7 linked regions of the Homo sapiens genome follow. The protein of the gene in region 6 purifies or fractionates together with the protein of the main gene of each other region. This does not show direct contact. Each region holds a gene or a part of one and is shown on either strand. Other genes may lie near its edges.

Region 1 (3,500 bases), on a different chromosome or scaffold from region 6:
GGAACTCATTTTTGACAAAGCTACCAAGAACATACACTGGAGAAAGGACAGTCTCTTCAATAAATGGTAATGGGAAAATTGGATATCCATACACAGAAGAATGAAACTTGACCTGTATCCCTAACTATATAAAAAAATCAAATCAAAATGTATTAAAGACTTTAAGTCCTCAAACTGTGAAACTACAAGAAAACATTGGGAAAACTCTCCAGAACACTGGACTGGGCAAAGATTTCTTGAATAATACCCCACAGGCAACCAAAGCAAAAATGGACAAATGGGATCACATTAAGTTAAAAAGCTTCTGCACAGCAGAGGAAACAGCAAAGTGAAGAGACATCCCACAGAATGGAAGAAAATATTTGCAAACTACCCATTTGTCAAAGGATTAATAAATAACCAGAATATGTAAGAGCTCAAACAACTCTACTGAAAAAAATCCTAACAGTCCGATTTAAAAATAGGCAAAAGATCTGAACAGATGATTCTCAAAGGAAGACATACAAATGGCAAACAAGCATATTAAAAGCTGTTCAGTATCACTGATCATCAGAGAAATGCAATCAAAACTACAATGAGATAACATCTCATCCCAGATAAAATGGCTTTTATCCAAAAGTCAGGCAATAACAAATCCTGACAAGAATGTGGAGAAAAGGAAACCCTCATACACTTTTGGTGGGAACGCAAATTAGTACAATCACTGTGGAAGCAGTTTGAAGGTTCCTCAAAAAACTACAGATAAGAGTTACCCTACTCCTAGGTTTACACCCAAAAGAAAGTCAGTATATCAAAGAGATATGTGCACTCCCATGTTTACTGCAGCACTATTCACAGTAGCCATGATTTGGAAGCAACCTAAGTGTCCATCAACAGATAAATGGATAAAGAAAACATGGTATGTATACACAATAGAATACTATTCAACCATAAGCAATGAGACCCTGTAATTTGCAGCAACATGGATGGAACTGGAGTTTATTAAGTGAAATAAGCCAGACACAGAAAGACAAACTTGGCATGTTCTCACTTATTTGTGGGAGCTAAAAACTACAATTAAACTCATGGAGACAGAGAGAAGGATGGATACCAGAGGCTGAGAAAGGCAGTGGGGGTGGGGGAAAGTGGGGCTGGCTAATGGATACAAATAAATACAAAGAGAGACTAAGACCCAGTATTTGATAGCCCAACACAGTGACTACCGCAATAAATAATTTAATTATACATTTTAAAATAACTAAGAGTTAAACTGTTTGTAACAGGGATAAATGCTGGAGGTGATAAATACCCCATTTACCCTGATGTCCTTATTACTTATTGCATGCCTGTATCAAAGTATCTCATGTAACCTATAAATACATACTTACTCATAACAACTAAAAATTAAAAATTATACCACTACCTAAATTTGAAAGTGGAAGAATCTCAAATTATGAGCTTGGGTTCTCCCTTAAGGAAAAAAAAAAAAAAAAAAAAGTAAAGGCAATGGAGGGGTGCACAACAGGGACTAACACATCAATGACAGCCAAGCAGTGTTAAATACTTAGAAAGGGGAAATTTACATAATCCACATATTTACATATTCATGAATACTTACTGAAGGCTTTGGTCCTCGTTTCTTTTTCTCTGCCTTCTCCTTTTCTTCTAGTTCCATGTTTTCTCTTTCAATCAAAGTAATTAAGGTATTACATCTCCTCTGGAGCTCCTAAATTATAAACAAACATGGTACACGCACTTTCCATCCACAAGTTTCATGATTTCAATTTTAAAACAAGGTATGTTTTAATAGGATAATATATAAAACCACTAATACACCCCTGATTTAAAAAAAAAACAACTGATTTTCATATACAATTCATGCTATGAAGATTAAAGGCAAGATATTTGTAAATAATGTTTTTACTCCAATCTTTAAAGCCAAACTACTGTGTATTCTTCAAAAATTCTTCCTTCACTTAGGAATTAAAGCAATAAAAATGAACATATGCAATACTGCTACTTAGTGTGTATGTCTGAGAACTACTGTGCTACTTATATCCAAAACTTAAAAAGATTAATAGTGCACATATGTGAGGGTCAAAAACAACAAGAACTTTAACAGGTGTGTATAATCTTTCCCTTCAAAGTATCACTAGAATTATGGTAGTCAATCAATCACATGGCACCTTTCCCAATTTTGGAAAACCAGCCATGGAAGTCTACGATGAGTTCTACCTCATCTCTCTCTGGCAAACTGGACATACAGCCTCCAGAAAAGATTTAAAGTATAACATAGAAGTAGCAGTTAACCCTGAAAGAAACAGAAGTCCATCTGCACGGACGGCTGCTGGGTAGCAGCCCCCTTTCTTATAGAGCAAAATTATTTTTTTCTTATAGTAAGTGATACTACTACACACACAACTACAGTAAAATAATTTTAAAATACTACTGTATAGAATACACCACACAAGACTTAGAAATAGTATATAGAGATAGAAGAATACATTATCATTTTTTGTGCATCTTAACATGGAACATGTTAAGAAGTAACACAGTTTTAAATTACGGTACTGTACTAGTTAAATTAACATGGCACTGTCTTGTTACAATCACTATAAAATTATTCTTTATTAACTCTATAAATTGTTCCCACTTAAGAAGAAATAAGCTTTCAGCAACTGGATCTTTTCTCTAATTATATATTTATACAGTGTTTTATCTTCAAAGTATCTTCATGTATTTAAGTTTAGTACATTTCCCAAACTTGGGTATCACAAACAGTGATGTCTAGTGAAAAAAAATTTTCAGTGGTCAAACATGAAAATACTGCTTACTATCCACTGTCTTACAAAGTGACATTTTACTTTAAATATACAGAGAAATCTTACTATAAACAAACACAAAGATGTTTAAACTTTGCTTATCCCAGAATATCCCAAACTTAAGACTAAAGAACTTATTAGCATTATCCTCATCTGGCAGAAAACAAGTTGAAGCTCAAAGTTCAATGGTGGTGAAATAAGGAAGAAAAGGAGCAATCCATCAAAGTTAAACTTTTCTGAATTCAAATTTTAGGTTATTAGAAATGGGGCTATTTGGTCAGAAACTGTTAGTCAGATATTGGGAATAAAAACAAAACCTAGCACTAAATCAGTGCAAAAGTAGTGTTTCACTATAATAAGCCATCTTAAAATAATCCAGACTCTGGATGATTTATATTAAATAAATCAGAATGCTGATTCTGATGTGCAGATGCTTGAATGCAAGGACCATTTTTCTTTATAGAAATATGTTCATTTGAAAAACCAAAAAGTCGTAACACTCAGAAGTTGAAACTGATACTTCCTCCCACTTAGAACTTGAAAAGCTAGTCTTATCATATAGTGATATTTAAAGACGTAAGATACTAAAGGATAGGACCAATAAACTTGTAAGCTATCCCTGGTATTAGGTTTTATGATACTAACAATATTGTAACAAAAGTCTACTTCATAGATTTTTTTAAAGTCACCTTAAAGAAT
Region 2 (3,500 bases), on a different chromosome or scaffold from region 6:
CTGTGAGCTGTGACTGTGCCACTGCGTTCTGGCTTAAGGCGACAGAGTGAGACTCTGTCTCAAAAGAAAAAAAAAGAGAGAGAGAGAAAAGAAAGGGAAATGAAAAGGAGTGAAAAGGGAAAACAGGGACATGAGACAACAGGAATAACATTTTCCTCCCTAGGAATTTTGACTAGTGTCTTCTCTGACAGCTGGCTACACTTTGAGAGTGATCATGGCAATGCTGCAAAGGAGAGGACATGAAAAAGTGTTTAAAAAGATCAATAAGCAACCACTGACCAGGGCGAATATAGGCATCAACAGCAGACATCCTGGGGCCAGTGGACAGGTTTTATCAGAGTTCCCTACATCCAGGATGAGGAAAAAAATTATTTTCTTTTTTTCTTTTTTAGAGACAGAGTTTTGCTCTTGTTGCCCAGGCTGGAGTGCAGTGGCACAATCTCGGCTCACCACAATCTCCACCTCCTGGGTTCAAGTGATTCTCCTGCCTCAGCCTCCCAAGTAGCTAGGATTACAGGCATGGGCCACTACGCCCAGCTAATTTTGTAGTTTTAGTAGAGACGGGGTTTCACCATGTTGGCCAGGCTGGTCTCGAACTGACCTCAGGTGATCCACCTGCCTCGACCTCCCAAAGTGCTGGGATTACAGGCGTGAGCCACCGCGCCCAGCCAAAAAAAATTACTTTCAAATACTCATGCGTCATCAATCCCAGAACTGCTAATCACGCAAATGGGGAGCCCTTTTCTGGCAGCTTATCCACCTGTGTGGACATTTCACGCAGGTTCGAGGTTAAGACTCTCTGTTGAGACATTGCCAAATTAAGCCTCCAAAGCTGGTTACTAAACACAGAACTGTCGCCAGTGAGTTCATCGTCCTCACCTTCACCACTGTTGCTATTTCCTTCCACTGTTCCGGACGCGGGTCCACTCCCGTGGGATTGTGGGCGCAGGCATGCAGAAGAAGAACACTCTGCTCTGGTATTTTCTAAAGAGAAAAACAGCCAAGAGACGACTTTGCAGCTTTAAAGGAAATGGTTTATCTGAAATGCCACAGGATCGTCATCATTTGATAAGTAACAAAGGTAACCAGAACCCTGGGAATCAGCTCTTCCCCAGTATTTTAACTCAGATATTGGGACATGGTGGGAGACATCAAATGTCCGCAAGCAAGGAGTTTTATTCACCTCTCTCACCCTGAAAGCCACACTTACTGAAATATCCTCCACAGCGCCTGTGAAGTCAAAACCGCAAGTCTTGGGGTCATAATACCGATAACCTTGTAGCTGCATGCCAGCATCCCTGAAGATGGGTGTGTGGTTTCCCCAGGTTGGTTTGGGCAGAAAGACATCTCGGCTGAACTTAAAAAATCTTTGCTAAAAGATGGGACGAAAGGAAACAGAAAAATGAACAAAGGAGAGGCAAAAAAATGTTGATGTGTTTTATTGAGAGAACATTTTTCTCTGCTGAAACCCAGTTTCTCTCTATGGTTGAGAAGCAGTATTGACTCAGCAGTAAGACTGCCTGGGTTGGAATAGTCTCTGACAGTTATACTGGCCATGTAGCCAAGGACCTTTCTGGGTCTTGCTTTCTTCACTTGTAAAGGGGGTTAATTGTACCTCTCTCATAGGGATTAAACAAGTTAAAATGCAAAAGCTCCCTAGTAAATAGTAAGTTCCTAGTGAACTGAATTTATCATCATCACTAATATATCTTTCCTGTAATTTCTTCAAAGTCCTTTCATTTTTTCATGAGAATAGGACATCTGCAAACTTCACGGAAAGAAGAAATCTACTTCTGCATCAACAGTCAAATACACACACAACAGGAAGCCCTGTCATCTGGAATTTATAATTCTTTCCTGAAGAAGCTTCCAGACTCACCAGAAAACTGGCTCCGATCCTTAAGGCTCCAGTTCCAGAAATGGTCTGCACAGTGACAAACTGAAGGAGAGATACCCACGGTCAGTGATGTGCAACACTCTCTATACAGGCCCAGACCCAGGGCCACTGCTTTGTCCAGGACCTTTCATACTTCAGAAGCTCATTCTTTATGGCCTGTCAGTATCATTTCATGTTACACGGGAAACTTTCAGAACACAAAAATTCCTCCTCAATATGAAAAAGGGGTGAATTATATAAAAGATATAAAAAGACACTGAGAGGCTGGGTGCGGTGGCTCATGCCTGTAATCCCAGAACTTTAGGAGGCCAAGGCGGGTGGATCACCTGAGGTCAGGAGTTCGAGACCAGCCTGGCCAACATGGCGAGACCCTGTCTCTACTAAAACAAAAATTAGCTGGGCATGGTGGCGCATGCCTGTAATCCCAGCTACTGGAAAGGCTGAGGCATGAGAATTGCTTGAACCTGCGAAGTGGAGGATGCAGTGAGCCGAGACTGTGCCATTGCATTCTAGCATGGGCAAAAGAGTGAGACTCTGTCTCAAAAAAAATAAATAAATAAAATAAAAAGACACTGAGAACAGTCACTACATTAAAACATTACTTTAGAATTATACAAAGTAGAATGACTCTCTAAACATCAAAGTTCCTTGAAAAGCAAGTCAACAAGTATACAAGGATAACATTACAACATTTTAAAGGTTTTCTGGCCGGGCGCAGTGGCTTATGCCTGTAATCCCAGCACTTTGGGAGGCCGAGGTGGACGTATCACCTGAGGTCAGGAGTTCGAGATCAGCCTGACCAACATGGAAAAACCCTGTCTCAACTAAAAATACAAAATTAGCCAGGTGTGTTGGCGCATGCCTGTAATCCCAGCTACTCAGGAAGGCTGAGGCGGGAGAATTGCTTGAACCCAGGAGGCGGAGGTTGCGTTGAGCTGAGATCGTGCTATTGCACTCCAGCCTGGGCAACAAGAGCGAAATTCCATCTCTAAATAAATAAATAAATAAAGGTTTTCTAAGAGGTCCCCTTCTATGTGTTTTCATAATCTGAAAATATTCATGTTTTGGGTAATAGGAAGATGCCTAAGGTGAATCTCCTTATTCAAATTGGTCAACTTTAAGGGACAAACAAGAAATTACCATAGGTTTAAGAGGTTTTTGTTTGTTGTTTTTAAAGGTGTTGTAGAAGTACAAGGCTCTACAAAGCACAAATGTATTTTTCTGGACTGGGGTGGTAGTAGATTAAAGAGGGAAAAACCCAACTAAAAAATTATTTTAAATAGTTTGTCCTGCAAGCTTTGGCATGATGGAAATAAAAACCTCACTGTAGGTCCGATGATACTACGATTCACAAAGGCACAACAATTTTTTTTTTTTTTTTTTGAGATAGGTTCGTGCTCTGTCACCCAGGCTAGAATGCAATGGCATAAACTTGGCTCACTGCAACCTCCACCTTCTGGGTTCCAGGATTCCTCCCATGTCAGCCTCCCCAGTAGCTGAGACTACAGGCGTGCACCACCACACCTGGCTAATTTTTGTATTTTTAGTAGAGACGGGGGGGCGGGTCTCACCATATTGGTCAGGCTGGTCTCGAACTCCTGAC
Region 3 (3,500 bases), on a different chromosome or scaffold from region 6:
TCTCTTTATTAGATTATTTAAGTTTAAAAATAATTAAAAAGAAAATGTCATCTCAGTTTCCATGTGACATGAAAAGTCATCTACTCTATCCATTTATCTGTTTAAAATAACAAGGGTTTCAATGTTCCTGTACCACTTAAGAAGAAACAGTTCTGCGTTTGGTTCCTGGCTTCGTTTTGCTAAGCATTTCTCTCTTTTTTTTTTGAATCCTTGATTTAAGGTTCACATGGAACAGTGATTTTCTTTTTTTTTTTTTGTTCCTGAGATGGAGTCTTGCTCCGTCGCCCACGCTGGAGTGCAGTAGCACAATCTCGGCTCACTGAGATGGAGTTTTTATTTGAGATAGAGTTTCGCTCTTGTTGCCCAGGCTGGAATGCAGTGGTGTGATCTTGGCTCACTGCAACCTCCACCTCCTGGGTTCAAGCAATTCTCCTGCCTCAGCCTCCCGAGCAGCGGGGAATACAGGCATGCGCCACCATGCCGGACGAATTTTGTATTTTTAGTAGAGACTGGGTTTCTCCATGTTGGTCAGGCTGGTCTCGAACTCCCAACCTCAGGTGATCCGCCTGCCTTGGCCTCCCAAAGTGGTGGGATTACAGGCGTGAGCCACTGCCCCCAGCCCGTTTCTTTTTCTTTTTGAGACAGAGTCTTGCTCTGTCGCCCAGGCTGGAGTGCAGTGGTGCAACCTTGGCTCACTACAAAGTCCACCTCCCCAGTTTAAGTGATTCTCCTGCCTCAGCCTCCCGAGTAGCTGAGATTACAGGCACCTGCCACCATGCCTGGCTAATTTTTGTAATTTTAGTAGAGATGGGTTTCACCATATTGACCAGGCTGGTCTTGAACTCCCGGCCTCAAGCGATCCGCCAGCTCAGCCTTCCAAAGTGCTGGAATTACATGTGTGAGCCACGGCATCTGGCCCCTTTTACTAAGCATTTCTTTGAACACGACAATCACTGCCCAGACTGGGCGCAGTGGCTCACGCTTGTAATACCAGCACTTTGGGAGGCCAAGGCGGGCAGATCACAAGATCAGGAGTTTAAGACCAGCCTTGCCAACACGGTGAATCCCGACCTCTACTAAAAATACAAAAATTAGCCAGGCGTGGTGTCAGGCGCCTGTAATCCCAGCTACTCGGGAGGCTGAGGCAGGAGAACCGCTTGAACCTAGGAGGCAGAGGTTATAGTGAGCCGAGATTATGCTATTGCACTCCAGCCTGGGCGACAGAGCAAGACTCCATCTCAGAAACAAACAAACAAAAAGAAAATCACTGTCCCATGTGAACCTTAAGGTCAAGGATTCCCCAGCATCACATGATCACTGGTGATTTCAGTTTCTAGTCAGAAGCCACTTAACTCCTGGCAGGGAGAGGCAGGCACATGGTGTGCTCACAATGACATCCTTTGGGCTCAACATTTTTGCAATCCTTTTCTATTGTGGGACAAAATCTTGATGGTAGGATCATCTCTCTACCTGTCTCCTAGCTGTGTCAAACTCCAGGGGTGGTCTGGATTTGGATAAGGTGAACACAGGACAGTGTCTGAGATGCCAGACACCAGGCTAGGGGGCAGGGATGCCCCTCAGGCCTGCAGGAGAGTAACAGAGCCCGCTGCTGAGCAGTTATGGACCACACAGACCCACCAGCAAGGCTGGGATTCCAGAGGAATAGAGACACAGGAGTCAAACACCAATCCTCTAAAGCAAGAACAGAAACCTAACCACCAAAGCAACGTCCCAGCCATCCTAGAAGACAGGTAGCTCGTGTGCTGGGAGCACGAGTGATGGTCTTTTCTGCACTCCCAATTGTTTACTGTTTTGCCTCCCACTGGTTTGGCCAGAGGAGTCAGGCCACCAGGCCCCCAGCATTGTGGAGCGAGGACAGGTGAGCTCGGCAGCGCCTCCACCGCACGAGTCCACCTCCTCCTGTGGGGTCGTGTGCCCGCGCCTCACCTGTCGGCTGCACGGTCCCGCGTCCTGTCTCTTCTCCTTTGCTTTTCCCTTCTCTTCTTCACATCCTCGTCCTCGTCCTCCTTCTCTCCTGTAACAGACAAGTCCCTTCGAGACGCTCTGAGTGGCCTGCAAAGGAGCTGAGCTCCAGGGCCTGGTCGGGGGGCTGCAGCTTGGCCACCGCACCCTGTGCCCTGCCACTGCCTGCACCACGCGGCAGGGTCCAGGATGCCCCAAGGCACTGTCAGAGACTCCTGGTGGACACGGGCCTGGAGTGAGAGCCCGGAGTAGTCACCAAACTCCCCACATGGCCTGAGGCGGCCAGGATGGGCTAGGGACACAGCCTGCCCACCCCATGTGCACCACAGCCCCCTGCTCCCTCTGTCCTCCCCATTCTGCTTGTCCAATCTCATGCCCTGCGATGGGGTCTTCTCCCAATATCACAGGAGAAGCCAATTCTCCCCGGATGAAGAGGCGGCAGCTGAAGGCCTCAGGAAGTGAAGCAGCTGCTCCGCCGCCCTCTATCCCACCTCTAGGTGGACTGTGACGAGCGTCCTGGCGGCCCCGTCTGAACTAGGGCCTCAGCAGGTCTGACAGTCCTTGCTGGCCCGACCTCTATCTTCCACTCACAAAAACCGTCAATCTAGGGCTTTCCCAGGGCTGCGTGGGAAGCAATCCTAGAAAAAAATTTGGGAAGAGACCAATTGGTCCTCCCGTCCGTCCCCCGGGGCCAGCAGAGGAGCTCCTCGGAGAGCCACGCGGCCATCATCCCAGCATGAGGCCAGGGACGGACGCTGAAAAAAGGTTGGAGAAGCATCTGAACTGTAACCCCTACCCCTGATGCCAGTCCCGAGACTGTCCCACGAAGATGGCGACCGGCGTGCGCTGCTCAGAAGCCTCTCAAAAGGGCGTGTGGGATTTTTGGCAAGAGGTCACTGCCTGAAACTATGACTGCTGTTTAATAGCAAAGTCATCCCGGGTAGGTAGCAGGACCTGCGCGCAACAGACATGTCACCTTTGCTTTAGCATTGTGCCGCTAAGCGCTCGGGGCGCCCCGTGCTATGGACAGGACTGCTGCGGGTCGCGGGGGGGAGGACCGCAGAGGGCTGGCAAAGCCTGAACAGGAGGAACATCTAAGCCAAGGGCCTTCAGAATGGATGGGAGCAGGGCCACTGAGGAGCCAGCCTATGATCCTTGGGGTAACCAGCTACGGAAAGACCCACAGGACAGGTAAAGAAACGAGTGGCTTCAGGGTGAGCTCCAGGCCGCGGCACCTCAGGCCGCTCTGCCATGAGGGATTTAAGCCTGCTCTGCTGTTGCTGCAGACCCTCTGGTCTCCTGCATTGGACATGAAGAGACCTGCTGAAGGGCGCCCGCCTCTCAAAGACCCAGTGGGCCTGGGTGCTCCCGACCCCGCAGGTGTCTGCTGTCACACACTCGCAGGCACGAAGCAATGTGCAGTGCAGCTGCCAGTATCCCCACCACAGAGGCCCACAGCACAGCCCAGGGCAGGCGACTGAAGGAACTGGACAAAAGGAAGCCCCAGAGAAAACACT
Region 4 (3,500 bases), on a different chromosome or scaffold from region 6:
TATTTTAACAAGGATTGGTCCCTCTGTTCAGGTACTTTTGCAACTCTTAGGCTATATGATATAAATAGAAAAAAATCATCACTTGATGTGTTTTTGCAAAGTAACAGGTAAAAACACTTGTTTTTTTCCCTGGAGAGCTTTGTGGCTCCAGACAAAGAATAAATATTCAGAAGTACAAACTTTACAGGAAAAGACAAAATAGGCCAGGGCCATGGGCATCAGATTTGGACATGGTAACTGAAAATGGACTGAAATTTTCCCAATGCTGAAAAGCAGTATGGTACATGAGGTTATGAAAACAGTGATCCCGAAGCCCCTCTCTCAAACTGAGGACTGAACCTGGAACAGTTACAGGCTTCTCTACTTTCACTAGCTGCTTCTCTAAGGGGCCAACAAAAGTGGCCATGTCTTATTTAATGAACCTATCACTACAATAAAAATGTCACAATTCAGAAAACATTACTTTTTACAGACTATCATAATCTGCTGGTCACCCTTTCACTCTGTCAGCTTATCTATGCCTCATTGTCACAGATACAAAAAAGGAAAGCAAAATTTGCCTTTCTAGGTATCACCACATTGCAGCCTTGGGGAGTGGGGAGATAAGGCAACAGGGTGAATAATTAGCAATGCTGGTCTCATCAAGCTCATTAAAATGTATAATGAAAATTTTGCCCATCCCCATTTCTTTGTTTCTAACCTGAAATTTTTTCTCTCTCTTTTTTTAAGAGTCAGGATCTCGCTATGGGGCTGAGGCCAGCCTTGAACTTCTGGGATCAAGTGATCTTCCTGCCTTAGCCTTCTGAGTAGCTGGGACCACAGGCTCATGCCACCACACCTGGCTCTAACCTGAAATTTTCAATATGATCATAATAACCCCAGCGTGTGTTAACCTACAGATTGCTCCTTAAAACTCAATTGCTTTAGCAGCTTTTAAGATCCTCCCCATCCCTTACTACTCACCTTTTAGGCTGTATATCATTCCAGCCCTAAGCTCCAGAGAGCCTGGTTCAAATGGACACTACAGTTTTTTCCATGCGTATTTAATGCTCACAGAACAAACCCCAATAGACCACAACCTTCACTCAGACTAACACAGCATTCTACTTGCCTGGCAGGTTCACAGATCATAAATTCCTCAGAAATCAATCTGCAGAATAAAGCAAGGACAACACTCAGAAGAACCCTGCCTAGAACCTAAATTAAAAAAACAAATCAGCTTTTAAGAGGACACCATGTCCTTTGCTTGGGAGCGCAATGCGACCAAGAAAGAACTAAAAGAGAATATGAAGTCCTCTTATTTAAGATATCAAACCAAAAATCTTCAGGAGAAAAAAAAGTTAACTGGTCTCATAGTAATAAAATGATCCCTTATCATGCCAACGCAAACTTTGATATGTTACCCCAACTCAAACAGCCCACGGCTGGTAAAAGATTTCTCCACCTGCGCAATGCCACAGGGCATTGCTAAAAACAAAACCCTTTTACACATAAAAAAGCCCCAAGATTTTAAAGCAGGAAAGAGGTAGGCTTATAAGTAAACCTACAGAGAGTATTAGATACAAATATTATCTAGCTATTTCATACTTTGAGAGTGAGCAGGGGGCAATAACTGACTACGCTTTGTAGCCAAAGAAAGAGAGACCATGTTTCATATGTGTTTGATTTTTACCTTTACCTGAAGTTCTCCCTGGAGACACAGAAACACGACTTTTTCTTGTACGGTTTGACTGCTGGGGTGTAGGGGAATGCCGAGTTTTGGGTGGTGGAGTTGCAGGAGGTGATGGCCTGTGCCTTCGCCTTGGAGGACTTGCTGAAGGAGATAACCTACGAGTTTTCCGAGGGGGGCTGGATGTCCTCTTGGGAGGCTTCTTTGGTGGTGACCGTGAACGAGATGAAGAGGATGATGAGCTACTCCCAGACAAGGATGCTGACGAACGTCTTCTTCTGTGGAATAAAGTATTCATATTCACTAATTGCACACTTATAAAGAACGGCCTTACAGGTATGAACAGTTTACACAAAAATACAGCTATTTTAATCCGACTTTTGAGTTTATGTAGCTAAGCACATAAATGAGTCCAAAAGAATGGGGGAAAAAACCATAACCTAGGCCAGGAAACAGCTAGTTCTGAGATTAATATAAACAACTTAATCTGATAAATACTTCTGTCTGTGTTCTCTCTCCAGTTATAAAACTTGTCAGGTTGAATGCTATAATAAAATAACTAACTAGTCCTTCTGCCTTAGGAATGGTATTGGTGTTTTGGAGTTTGCATATAAAATTTGGGGGCAAGGTATTTTCCATTTAATAACACAATGTTGAGAAACCTTTAGGTTGCATTTTTAAAAAAGATGTGCAAAACTAAGAATTCATTTAGCTACATAAACTTAGAAGCAGGGGCCTCTCGAATTCTGCGGCAAAATTTGTGTTAAGTTCTGTTGCAATTATGTGTACCTGCAGAATTCACCTTTGGCGGAAGAATTCCTGAGAACCTGAAAAAAAGAAACCCTACCTTAAGTGTGAGATAAAAACTGGCTGAAAGGGAATCTTAAACAATCTGTAAAATATTGACTGCTAAATGGCTGAGTAAGCACAATTTAAACATGCTGTTTGCAAAACTCCAGTATAAGAAATAGCTGTTTCCACTAATCTTGTACTAGGAAGCACCAGCATTACTTTTCTCCTAAAAGGGAATTAGAAAAGTGTGATGCCTGAAAATTGACTGACCATTTACCTCACTAATTTCCTCTATGAGCACAACACATCAATTCTTTGCAACAGTAGTAATAGTTCAATATATCTTAACAACCCCTCCCCAAAGAAAATTTTCAAAATATGGGACTCTGAAAAACCTGACTGCAGAAACAAAGTAACTTTACAGAGCTTACTTGATTTTTCCCCTCTTTATTTCCAAATTGATTTGGTTCCCTGAAAAGAACTTTAAAAGACTCAAACAAAAAATTCTGTCCAAAATAACTGGAAGCTTAATCATCGGCATTTCTTCCCAAGCCAGGTGAAACGTATTGCAAGAAGGCACAAAAACTGCTACCAGTGCACTAGGACTCTACTTTGGGTAGACTTAGCCACTAATTTTTGTTTAAAGTGATATATCCAAGATTCAAATATTTTATCTTATGCTCATTTTAGAATGATGTAAAAAAAAGAACACTGGTACAGTTGGGGTTTTGAAAAATAACCAGACACTAAACTAGTAATAGCAATTATATCTATGGAATATAGATATATTCCCCCACGGATTATGGAAAACTTCCAAGTTATGCTATTTCTGTCTGAATTACTTATAAGCTTCATTACTTCTATAATGAGAATTTTCTGAGAATTTTATAAAAAATTCATAAAAATACTTTTCTCAAAGTATAACAGCAAATGAATTACTTTAATACTGGTAAAAGGAGCTTACTGGCCCTATAATCAGCTACTTTTCAGAAGCCAGTTAAAAGCCAAAGAGAAGGTGGCCAATTCTCTTACTTAGTAT
Region 5 (3,500 bases), on a different chromosome or scaffold from region 6:
GGACCTGAGACATAGAAGATGACTGAATGGAAGAGGTCAATGTGGAAATCAACATAAAAAGGGATGCGGGGGAGCTGATGTCATTCATTTACCTAAAAGAAATAGTGTACTTCTGGAAAAGGGTCAGACTAATTGGAAAAATCAGCCACAGTCAAATGAATTCAATTAAAAAAAAAATCAAATTAGCCCTGGTCAAATAAATCCAAGTTAAAAGGAAACAGTCTTTAGTCTGAAAAATAATATTTTAGTCTGAAAGAGTCTAATATTTAGGTAGCATAACACTACTACAGTTCAGTGGATGAAATGGAAGGTTCTAAGTAGGTTAATTTATAGCACAGTTATTTAGGAAATAGTCCTGATTATATAAATTTATACTTGAATAATTTCTTAACCAAATACAAGCCCCATATTGATACGAGATGCTAGGTGGAAAGCTGTTCCAGGACTATAGTCATAAGCAAACTAAGTCACTTACAGATCTTTTTTTAAAAAGCCATGCACTAATATGCAATGATGTTCCCGGTTACCTTGCTTGTTGTTTTGGATGTTTTCCTGCCAGGGTTATAATCGCCTTCATTTTCAGAGCCAGATGCTTTCCTTTTCTTTGCCCCTCGGCCTTTACCTTAAAATGATACAAAAGGTTTTTTCTTCCGTGGTTAAGTGCAATATAAAAAGATAAATGCCACAACATTGTAGTTTATTTCTTTGGCATGCCCAATCAGTGGAGCATTGCAGTCCTGATCTCTTACTATGAGTGATTATAAACAATTTGGCAGTAGCATTTCAATTCTGGGGTTGACATGACCAAAGACTTTTTGACAAATACATTTAAACTAGTGGGAAAGTCCCAAAGACAAATTTTAATGATGAATCCCTTCATACATAAAACATTTGTATTTGCTATTTGGTCCTTGAGCCTGAAAAGGAAATATCTTGGAAGAGTACTTCTTAAATTACATGGGATTTAAATATTTTTTTTCATTTCTAATTTGTCATGGGCCAATACTTTTAAAAATACCATAGAACACAAATTACTAAAAAATGTAATCACATGCTGTTTTAGTAACACATTATTATAAAGGTCTAAATGTTTACTCCGTTTTACTTATCAAAGACTAGTAACAACCAATTGCATATCCCACATTAAGTGGCACCATATGAGAACCACCAGTATTAACTATAAAATGTCAAATACATATTCCTTCTCAGACCTAGACTCAGCACATGCAGCATTTTTTTTCACCTACCTAACCTCTTATTCTCATCATTGGAGGTGGAAGGAGAAAAGGTAATATTTAAGTAGGGGCCAGATGTTCTCCATCCCACAATGATGCCAATGAAATAAAACAACTAAATAGCAATTTTATATCTTTAAAATCCCTTGACAGCTAGACTGGACAAGTACGAAGATAGACTTAAATAATCTTGGGATGTCATATTTGATCAAATGAATCAGGGAAATAGCATTTTTGAATTTATAAAGGCTTTCAATCCTGCATATCTTGAGTACTACTTTCCCAGTCACTGTGATTCTTTTCCACCCTATTATCCCCATTTCCCTGTAGGTCTACAGCTCCTTATCCCAACCACTCCTTAAAGAAATATAAGAAACACACTGAGGAAGATATCCTTCAGTTGAATAAAAGGTAGAGCAGCTACCCTCACAGCATGAGCTACCCTCATATCATGTCTTACAAACATATTTTACAAAACATCTTCAAGGGCTTTCCAGATTCTGGAGTTAAAGAGGGGATGCCATGGAGAACTGGTGCTGTTCCTTGTGTGGCCCTGAATACAGTTATTTCTTAGGTGAGAAAAAAAGTTCTAGCCTAAGAGTCCTGGATCTAGCCCATTACTATAAGTGTCACAGTTAGTGTGGAGTACTGATCTGACTTTTTAATAACAACTTTCAGTGAGTTGGCTGCAGGGGAGAATTTGGACCATTCTTAGGGATTCTTATTTAACCTCTTTGAGCCTCAATTTTTTAATTTGTAAAACAAAGTGACTGAACTAAATTGCTATGCCTCCTTTGGACTATATTCAGCACTGATTCCTAGACACACTGCTTACTGAGGAGTAAAGCAATTTAAAACAAAATAGATACCTAGCCTCTCTAAATTCAATGAGGTAGAAAAAATTCAATCTTTTCCACACAGCATATGTTTAAAGGGTTATAAGAAGATAATCCTCACCTTTTGGTGTTGTAGTCTTCTTTGGAATGCCAAATTCTGAATCCGAGTCAGAGTTTACAGCCTCTACTACTTTCTTCTGTTTTGGGGCTCTCTTGGGCTTAGGGACTGTATCTGAAGACGGTTTTCCTAGTAAGCAAATTTCCATTTCACAGGTCAATATACTTACCAACAAACCAAACTGAAGAGAGTCCTATATAAATGGAATTTCTTATAGCTGATTAGAAACTGAGTTGCCTGGCTGGGCGTGGTGGCTCACACCTGTAATGCCAGCACTCTGGGAGGCCAAGGCGGGGTGGATCACCTGAGGTCAGCAGTTCAAGACCAGCCTGGCCAATACGGTAAAACCCCATCTCTACTAAAAATAAAAAAATTAGCCAGGTGTGGTGGCAGATGCCTGTAATCCCAGCTACTTGGGAGGCTGAGGCAGGACAATCGCTTGAACCCGGGAGGTCGCAGTGAGCTGAGATTGCGCCACTGCACTCCAGTTGAGCAACAAGAGCAAAACTCTATCTTCAAAAAAAAAAATTGAGTCGCCTTAAATAATGAAATGGTTTCTCTCTGCTTGGCGGCAATGTAAAGGCAAACAATTTCTCATAGATGACAAAATGCTTTTTATTTAATTATGTATAATTTGCCCTTAGGTAATACAATTAAGACATTTTAAGGAAGAGCCATTAAAATAAATTAAGCAGTAACTTTTAAATACAGAATAGTCATGACAAAAGAGTAGCATATTTGATAAATTAATTATAACCCAGATATAACCACAGATTAAGTCCTAACTTTTAGAATGTTTTAGAGAAAAAAATGTATGGGATCCTCGAATACAATGAATAGAAACCAACTCACTTCCATTCAAAAGCTGAAATCCAGACTTGGCATTTTTATGTGGAAAGAAATATAAAATCCTAGATAAGTAGACAATTGATACCAGGCCTTTGCTTTCTGGAATTTTGAAAAATAGACCTTGTTTTACAGCTTTATCTGCAGTTCTATGTGAAAACTGATAAATAAGGCCAGTTGCAGTGGCTTACACCTGTAATCCCAGAACTTTGGGAGGCCAAGGCAGGCGGATCACTGGAGGTCAGGAGTTCGAGACCAGCCTGCCCAACATGGTGAAACCCCATCTCTACTAAAAATACAAAAAATTAGCCCAGTGAGGTGGCGTGTGCCTGTAGTCGCAGCTACTTGGGAGGATGAGGCAGAGGAATCGCTTGAACCCAGGCAAGGGAGGTTGCCGTGAGCCAAGATCACGCTACTCCACTCTAGCCTTGGTGACAGAGCAAGACTCTGTCTCAAAAAAAAAAA
Region 6 (3,500 bases):
GGTGCAATGACACCTCTCTGCAACCTTGCACTCCTGGGCTCAACCAATCCTTCCACCTTGGCCTCCCAAAGCACTGGGACTACGGGCATGAGCCACTGCACCTGGCGTCTTTGGGTGTTGTGCTTCTGTTATCTTCAGCACACCTTAATTCCCATCTAATGATATTGTGAGAGTTGATCACACAAATTCAGTCATTCTTGTCATACCCAACTAAAACTGAGTTGAGAAGCTGGGGGGAGAAGCACCTGGAACACAAAATGTTGGCTGCAGCTCTCAGACTAGTTTTGCCGACTGCCATCCCTCACCAGTCAGAGCTTGTCAGCTCCTCAAAACCTTACGAGCAGCAGTGAAATTTCTTAAAGAAGAACATGGAAAAGTTATTCGGAAAGCACGCTTTCACTTGTACTGAAGGCTATAACACCCAATGTGCAGGTTGTTTTTTTAACAGAAAATAAAGTTCTCTTTTTCCCTCCACAGATCTCCTGGTCTTTTGTTAACAATATTTATTTTGTTATTCACCAGCTCTTCCTACCAAGTTATCTTCATCTATTCGAAGTTTCCATTTTCCTTCTTGCCAAATCTTTGTCACAGATTTAAAAATATTTCTTTCATGAAAAGCTTATGTGTATTTATATAATATAGGCTTGATAAAATGAAGAATTAGTTTATCACAAAACTTTATATAGTCATTTATTAAAACTGAAACCAAGTTATGAGCTTTCGGGAGCAAAACTTTTCCCTAATTCACTGAGCACTGTGGCGGCTGTAGGACGAGCACTTGGACCCTGTGCACTCAGAAGCTCCCACTCTAGTGGGGAGGATGAGACTGGCGAGCAGGACACGATGACAAATGATACTAGTCAGGTATGAGGGAGGGTAGTTAGAGACCAATGAGATGTCACTACTATAAAGTAAAAGTAACTGATTTCTTTAACAAAATCTAATGTATAAATGTTAAGTGCAGGGAAATCTGAAACTATTTATTGTGATAATTACATTTATAATTTCACCATTTGGATGTTACCCATCTGAAATCACCAGGTAAAAGTCAGGGCCAGCCACTTTGCCCAAATAAAATATATGCATAGATGGAGAAATTATATAAGTTAATTGTAATAAATATGTACTAAGGTATTATAATCTCAATTTAACAAAATAATCCTGAGCAGTACACAGTAATATGGGATCTGGGGTTGAGAGATCATAGGACTTTTAATAAAATTTTTAAAACTAAAGCTGACCATTTCACATTTGATCTTATTTCAGAAACATCTTCTGCATGTGCCACAGCTACCTTCTGAATTAACGGGCATCATACCTGTGGTACATTTTCAGAAATAAGGGTCTAAAAAAGACTGGTATTTACCCACTGCTTCTTCTTGGTCTGAGAAATCAGTTGCTTGTGCTGTGTTGCCAGCTTCTTGATTTCTTCTACAAATTCTTCCTTACACTTTTCCTTTACTTGCTTACATTTTCTGTCCATCTCACCCTGCATGTTGGCTACAGCTTTATTTACAGCTTGTCTCTTTTCTTCTTCCATTTCAGAACGCAGCTGGAATGAAAAGACAACCCACAGTGCGTCAGCACACAACTTAACACAGACCATCTACACTGGAACAGAAACTTAACACAACTTGCATGAGGTACCTTTTTTCCCCTTCATTACATGTGTAAAAAATTTAGGTGAGGAAAGTATCATTATTACTTGAAATGCTGTAAAAGATACTGGTGTCATTATATGGCTACATGTAAAAGCTGCTACTGGGTTGATGCATGAGTGAAAGGAGCCTAACCATGACAGGAGTGCCGGCTGCAGCAGGGCACCCACAGTGGCGACAAGCATTACCTTCTCCAGAGCTTCTCGGACAACACGCTCTGTCTCCCGCTTGTGGTCCGACTTCATCCGGTCTTTGAAGTCATTGAAGATCTTGGTGTATTTGTCATGGCACATGCTCTGACACACGCCGTCGTTTGTGGTCTGGGTGCTCCGATGCAGCATTCTTGGTGAAGAGGCACTTAACTTCTTTGTCTGAGTTGACACGGAGACTTTTTCGATGGGCTGAGGCATCGTGGGTATTTCCTGGCTAGAACTTACTGCTTCTGTTTCAGGCTCTGGTTCCTAAAAGGTGAGACAAGAGTTTAGACGCCAAACGAAGCCACATAATTCACCAGTTCAAGAACTACCCCATTCGGATAAAAATTCAGTGATATACATAATAGCCATAGAATAAACTGCTGTTGAAAAATGTAGTTAGGGTGGTAGATGTCACGTATATTTTGCCACAATTTAAAAATAAACAAATCTCCCCCAATTAGTGAATGAAAAGAACATGCAATTAACAGCTACAATAATTATAAACATAAGCTTCATTTATAATTTTACTTATCAATACTATAAGTTTTGTTTTTAAAATAAACTAAACACAGAAATTTATAGAATATAAAAATTATTGTCAACTTATAATTACTTCATTGGACTAGATTCATTAACACATTTCCTCAAATCCTAAACCACTTCTCACTGAATATGTGTTTGAAATGTGCCCAGATTTACAGTTTTAAAACATGCAGGGCTTATATCACTTAAAACGGCTGAGCTCAACCACAGTCTCCTTCAAGTTTTTAAATGTTGGCACAACTGATATACTGGATAAATGTGTTGTTTTTAATCATACTTAGGAAAAATATCAGAGCTCCCAGGAAATGTATTAATAGCAATGTGCCCTTCCTACTTAGCCAAGCTTTGGTCAGCGGCTGCTTAATTAAGATGGAGACTTGGAGCATGTACGCTATTCCAGGGTAACAGATAATGACAGGGAAGTCAGAAGACTGGTTTCAACTTGATGGATATGATTTGACTGACAGCAGCTGAATTTCACAAGTATCCACCAAGAGTGACTGTCTTTGAAATACTTTGAAAATACAAAATACTTTGAAAATATTTCCTGTTTCATTTGCCACCTGGATACTGCGAGGTGGGCAACTTACTTCCTTTTTGGGCTCCACACTTTGATTACGTCGTCCTTTCTTTGCTCTTGGTTCTTGAGTGACCTTTAGCTGTGGGCATTATAAAAGTAATATATTATTCCAGACACTAGAAAATACTTCTCTGCTGAAAACACTCATAGTGGACCCACAGGTGAGAAGTGAATACATTTCTACCTTTTGCATCCTTCCATCCACTCAGTTACCACTGACTTAATTTACTGTTCTGGTAACTGTAGGCTTGAAAGAGCCAGCGCACCTTCAGAGAGGAGCACTTGTACTTAACTCTCTTGGTACTGGCAGGGTCAAGGTCATTGATTGTTACATCTATGTATTCATTTGAACTGCTTTTGGTTTAGTTTTGCAGAGCACTTTACAAATGTAAAAAAGGGAAGGAGAACGTCAAAATCTGTTCATTACAGTGAGGAGTGTGCACTAAGATTTCTGCATTTAAAAGTAATAATGAATAGGCACTTCCTTCCGGAGACACACTCACCTGCTCATTACTGGTGGAG
Region 7 (3,500 bases), on a different chromosome or scaffold from region 6:
TATACAGGCAAGTTTGAAAAACATGGTCACTAGGTCATCCCTAATAATTACGATTTTAGAATTGGTGATCGGCTCTTCTGACACAGATGTTCACCAAAGCAGAGAAGCAAAAGATTTTTTTGTTCCTCTAAATAGTAAGAACCAGTGTCTGTTTAGGTTTTTTTGTGTTTTTTTTTTAGTACGTAATACCGTCACCATCTTGAATTTGGATAGCACTTTTAAAAAATGTTCACATATGTTATCAACTTTTACACTTGGTCCTGCTCTGCAAAGGTAGCTGCCTTTCCATGCCACTTCTCTCTTCTACAACCAAGGGAAACATAAGGAAGGAAGATGGAGGATGGAGTGAGAAAGATATAATAGAGACAGACACTCCAGACCAGGAATCAGAAAACTTTTTCTGTAAAGGGCCAGAGAGTAAGTATTTTAGGTTTTGTGGGCCATATGGTCTCTGTGGCAATTACTTAACTCTGCCATCATAGCACGAAAGCAGCTACAGACAATATGTACGCAAGAGAACATGGCTGTCTTCTAGCAGAGCTCTATTTACAAAAACAGGCAGTGGGCCACATGTGGCTCACAGACTAGTTTGCCAACCTATTCTAGACCTGTAGCGTCTCTAGAAAGTGTGTGTGTGAGCATGTGGTAGTTGCAGGAAGAGTGTCCTCTGACTTCTCAGTAATTCCTCAAGGCCAAGCTCACATCGCACTGCAGCATCTCATTTTCCAGTATATCATACAAACTATTTTTATACCTTACTATTTTGACTCAACCTTACTTCCTATCTTTTATCAGGTTGGGTCTTTAAGAGCATAACACTTGCATATTAGGATTTTTCTCTCATACTACCTAAAATGGTAGCCTCGCAATAACTGCTAAAATTGGCTTATATATGCTATGATTGCCTTTTCTTTCAACAGGAAAAACATATCCCTACTGAGTCTTCTGGACAATCAGTTCATCTATTGTTATGCATTAAGAAAAAGTTCAGAGAAAGATCTGGAGTCCAAGGGCTAGCTTAGCCTTCAGGACAGCCTCCATTCCTAAATTCAGACCTAAACAGACGACATGTAGTGGCCAATCTCCAACTCTTCCCTTAGGCCTGGAGGAACTGGGAATCACAATTCAGACTTCTGAGCAAAGAAAAATATAACTATAACTAATTACCATGCAGTTCAACAATAATCACAAATGTTTTTATGAAGCATTGGTACCTTACCAATTACAAATAGACAAAATGATGTCCAATGCTCCTTCTTCTGACCTCCAAGGCAGGTAGAAAAATTAACATTTTCCTAAATGTACAATGACATAATCTATGGAACATGAAGTTGAAGGCATGAGTAAAACTAAAGTTAAAACAAGACTATATTTACTTGGATTTTACCCCAATGGGCAAATGCACACACCACTCCTCTAACAATGCTTAACTCTAGTATCTGGGACTAAACTGCTGGGAAACATGTTGGGATTTGAGCAAAGGTATCAGAACTCATTTACAATCGGGAAAACTGACAAAATGCCAAAACACCATTAAAATTCAGAAGTTTCTATCATACATTCAAAAGTTTTCTAAACAGAACTGAAATTATTAAGCCATAATAAGTAAAACATACTTAAAAAAAAACATTACCTCAATTGGGTTAAATTTAACACTACTTATACTGTCAAATCCCCAGGTCATTGAACATATAGGATTAGTTCTTTGTTCATCCCAAATGTCTACTTGCTGTCCACATGTGGCAAAAACAGCTTCTTTCCAGTGATGATCAATCCCAGTATACACTGTCTTTAAAAGCAAAAAGGTTAAGAGGATTTTTTTCATTACTAATTCAAATCTGCAGAATAATATTTTAAATATATTTATCTATACTATCTTTTTAGAGAAAAGCCCTGTTCACAAAGAAACTTCTTTGAAGTCCTTACTTAAAGGGGGAAACAATACCATAATGAGACAAGACATTTTAAGAATGAAACCAATTTTGTTTTAGAAATTACTAACGTGTTTCCAACTACAAATTATCTCTACCTCATACTCATACCCCATTCCCCTATCCCTTTAAGAACATTTAGTCTTCTTGAAACCTAAAGCAGAACCTAAATATTATATACTAACCATAATATTGAAACGACAAAGTGATTTTTAAAAGGTAGATTTAATTTAAAGATTAAATCTAATTTTGGAATTGTTTGCTTAATATAAAAATGTAAACATTATAAAACATGGATAGACCAAATGTTCTAAATTATTCTTATGCTAAAACTAAACCACCCATCACCTGATTTGCAGAATAATTTGGTAGAAACATTAATAAGATTTATACATGATGCATAATACTATTAAATTTCTTCATTTCTTAAAGGAGTCTTTCAACTAAGAAATTCTGAGTTTTGTGTAAGATCTATGATGACATCAACTAGACAAGCTGAAGCATTTTCTGAACTTCTATCTTTTTCTCCGTGGTCTTCCCATGGGAAATGTTTCATTGTATCCTCTGGCTAAAAACAGAAATCAAACTCTACTACAATGAATACCAAAAAAAAAAAAAACTGTTAAAATTCTTTAGCATCAAAGGACTTTAGCTGCATTAAATATTGCGTAAATGGGTCAACAATTACAGCCTAAAGTCTTTCGTTTCTTATCTGCATCTTCTTCCCCATCTTAGGAAATTATAACTATAAAATAATTTTAAATAAAAGAATGTTAATAGGCAAGCTATTAGTCAATTTACTTTTGTACCTTTCCTAATATTGTATGTAATGGCTCTTCCTCGTCTCCATAGCCTGGCCCATCCATTTTCCACTGCTTCACAGTTTTGTCATCACCAACCTAGAAATATTTGTTTTATTATGATGATGGTAAGGAACAACAGTTATAAATTAAAACTTGCCAACACATATCAAATAAGTATCTTGTTTAAAACAGGTAACATACCATATCATTCCAGTATTACACTTATTGATCCATTTATATCCCACCTTGTTTTAGTAAAGATTTGTGACAAATACATAAAGTACATAAAACTAAAAATATAATGAGTAGAGCAAAAGAAAAACAAGAACAGGGGCAAAGTTAGGTCATGCATATTGTGATAAACATGGCATTTCAACTTGGAGAAAAAATGGATTATAAAAAATGGTATTATAATATCTGGTTAGTCATTCAAAAAAATTGAGCCAATTTGATGCCTTATGTGAAAATAAAATTCCAGGTAATTTTAAATGTAAAAAATAAAATGAAAAACATGAAAATACTGGAGAGAAGGCATTGTTATAATATTGAAATAGATAAAGTCCTTTTCTGCATGAACTGCAGAAACTACTAAGTCAGTGGTTTTCAAACTGTGAACTTTGGGCCTCTGGAGGACCCTGAGAACTTTTCAGGGTCCACACAGTCAAAACTATTTTCATAATGTTAGTAAAGACATAGTTTGTCTTTTCACTGTGCTGACAGCTGCACAAATAGTAAAAAAGCAACAGTGAGCAAAACTGTTGGCACG

The links.
Region 1: the proteins of ZMYND11 (region 6) and SMARCA5 purify together in Homo sapiens (affinity purification with mass spectrometry, with the first as the bait; one large-scale study listed by BioGRID). This does not show direct contact.
Region 2: the proteins of ZMYND11 (region 6) and GOT2 purify together in Homo sapiens (affinity purification with mass spectrometry; one large-scale study listed by BioGRID and IntAct). This does not show direct contact.
Region 3: the proteins of ZMYND11 (region 6) and AKAP8 purify together in Homo sapiens (affinity purification with mass spectrometry, with the first as the bait; one large-scale study listed by BioGRID). This does not show direct contact.
Region 4: the proteins of ZMYND11 (region 6) and SRRM1 purify together in Homo sapiens (affinity purification with mass spectrometry, with the first as the bait; one large-scale study listed by BioGRID). This does not show direct contact.
Region 5: the proteins of ZMYND11 (region 6) and TOP2B purify together in Homo sapiens (affinity purification with mass spectrometry, with the first as the bait; one large-scale study listed by BioGRID). This does not show direct contact.
Region 7: the proteins of ZMYND11 (region 6) and DCAF13 purify together in Homo sapiens (affinity purification with mass spectrometry; one large-scale study listed by BioGRID and IntAct). This does not show direct contact.

What each region holds. Positions count from the first base shown.
Region 1 is NC_000004.12:143,548,202-143,551,701, reverse strand, and holds part of SMARCA5 (SWI/SNF-related matrix-associated actin-dependent regulator of chromatin subfamily A member 5), read right to left. Parts: intron 1,706-3,500; coding exon 1,598-1,705; intron 1-1,597. UniProt on the Homo sapiens protein: ATPase that possesses intrinsic ATP-dependent nucleosome-remodeling activity.
Region 2 is NC_000016.10:58,717,317-58,720,816, forward strand, and holds part of GOT2 (aspartate aminotransferase, mitochondrial isoform 1 precursor), read right to left. Parts: intron 1,940-3,500; coding exon 1,880-1,939; intron 1,373-1,879; coding exon 1,211-1,372; intron 985-1,210; coding exon 880-984; intron 1-879. UniProt on the Homo sapiens protein: Catalyzes the irreversible transamination of the L-tryptophan metabolite L-kynurenine to form kynurenic acid (KA). As a member of the malate-aspartate shuttle, it has a key role in the intracellular NAD(H) redox balance.
Region 3 is NC_000019.10:15,366,288-15,369,787, forward strand, and holds part of AKAP8 (A-kinase anchor protein 8), read right to left. Parts: intron 2,036-3,500; coding exon 1,948-2,035; intron 1-1,947. UniProt on the Homo sapiens protein: Anchoring protein that mediates the subcellular compartmentation of cAMP-dependent protein kinase (PKA type II).
Region 4 is NC_000001.11:24,653,302-24,656,801, reverse strand, and holds part of SRRM1 (serine/arginine repetitive matrix protein 1), read right to left. Parts: intron 2,497-3,500; coding exon of another isoform or gene 2,459-2,496; intron 1,948-2,458; coding exon 1,673-1,947; intron 1,151-1,672; coding exon of another isoform or gene 1,139-1,150; exon of another isoform or gene 1,112-1,138; intron 1-1,111. UniProt on the Homo sapiens protein: Part of pre- and post-splicing multiprotein mRNP complexes. As a component of the minor spliceosome, involved in the splicing of U12-type introns in pre-mRNAs. Involved in numerous pre-mRNA processing events.
Region 5 is NC_000003.12:25,598,908-25,602,407, forward strand, and holds part of TOP2B (DNA topoisomerase 2-beta), read right to left. Parts: intron 2,319-3,500; coding exon 2,193-2,318; intron 623-2,192; coding exon 528-622; intron 1-527. UniProt on the Homo sapiens protein: Key decatenating enzyme that alters DNA topology by binding to two double-stranded DNA molecules, generating a double-stranded break in one of the strands, passing the intact strand through the broken strand, and religating the broken strand.
Region 6 is NC_000010.11:246,955-250,454, reverse strand, and holds part of ZMYND11 (zinc finger MYND domain-containing protein 11), read right to left. Parts: coding exon 3,482-3,500; intron 3,058-3,481; coding exon 2,989-3,057; intron 2,120-2,988; coding exon 1,847-2,119; intron 1,644-1,846; exon of another isoform or gene 1,553-1,643; coding exon 1,367-1,552; coding exon of another isoform or gene 1,346-1,366; exon of another isoform or gene 665-1,345; intron 1-664. UniProt on the Homo sapiens protein: Chromatin reader that specifically recognizes and binds histone H3.3 trimethylated at 'Lys-36' (H3.3K36me3) and regulates RNA polymerase II elongation. Does not bind other histone H3 subtypes (H3.1 or H3.2).
Region 7 is NC_000008.11:103,425,386-103,428,885, reverse strand, and holds part of DCAF13 (DDB1- and CUL4-associated factor 13), read right to left. Parts: intron 2,831-3,500; coding exon 2,741-2,830; intron 1,790-2,740; coding exon 1,634-1,789; intron 1-1,633. UniProt on the Homo sapiens protein: Part of the small subunit (SSU) processome, first precursor of the small eukaryotic ribosomal subunit.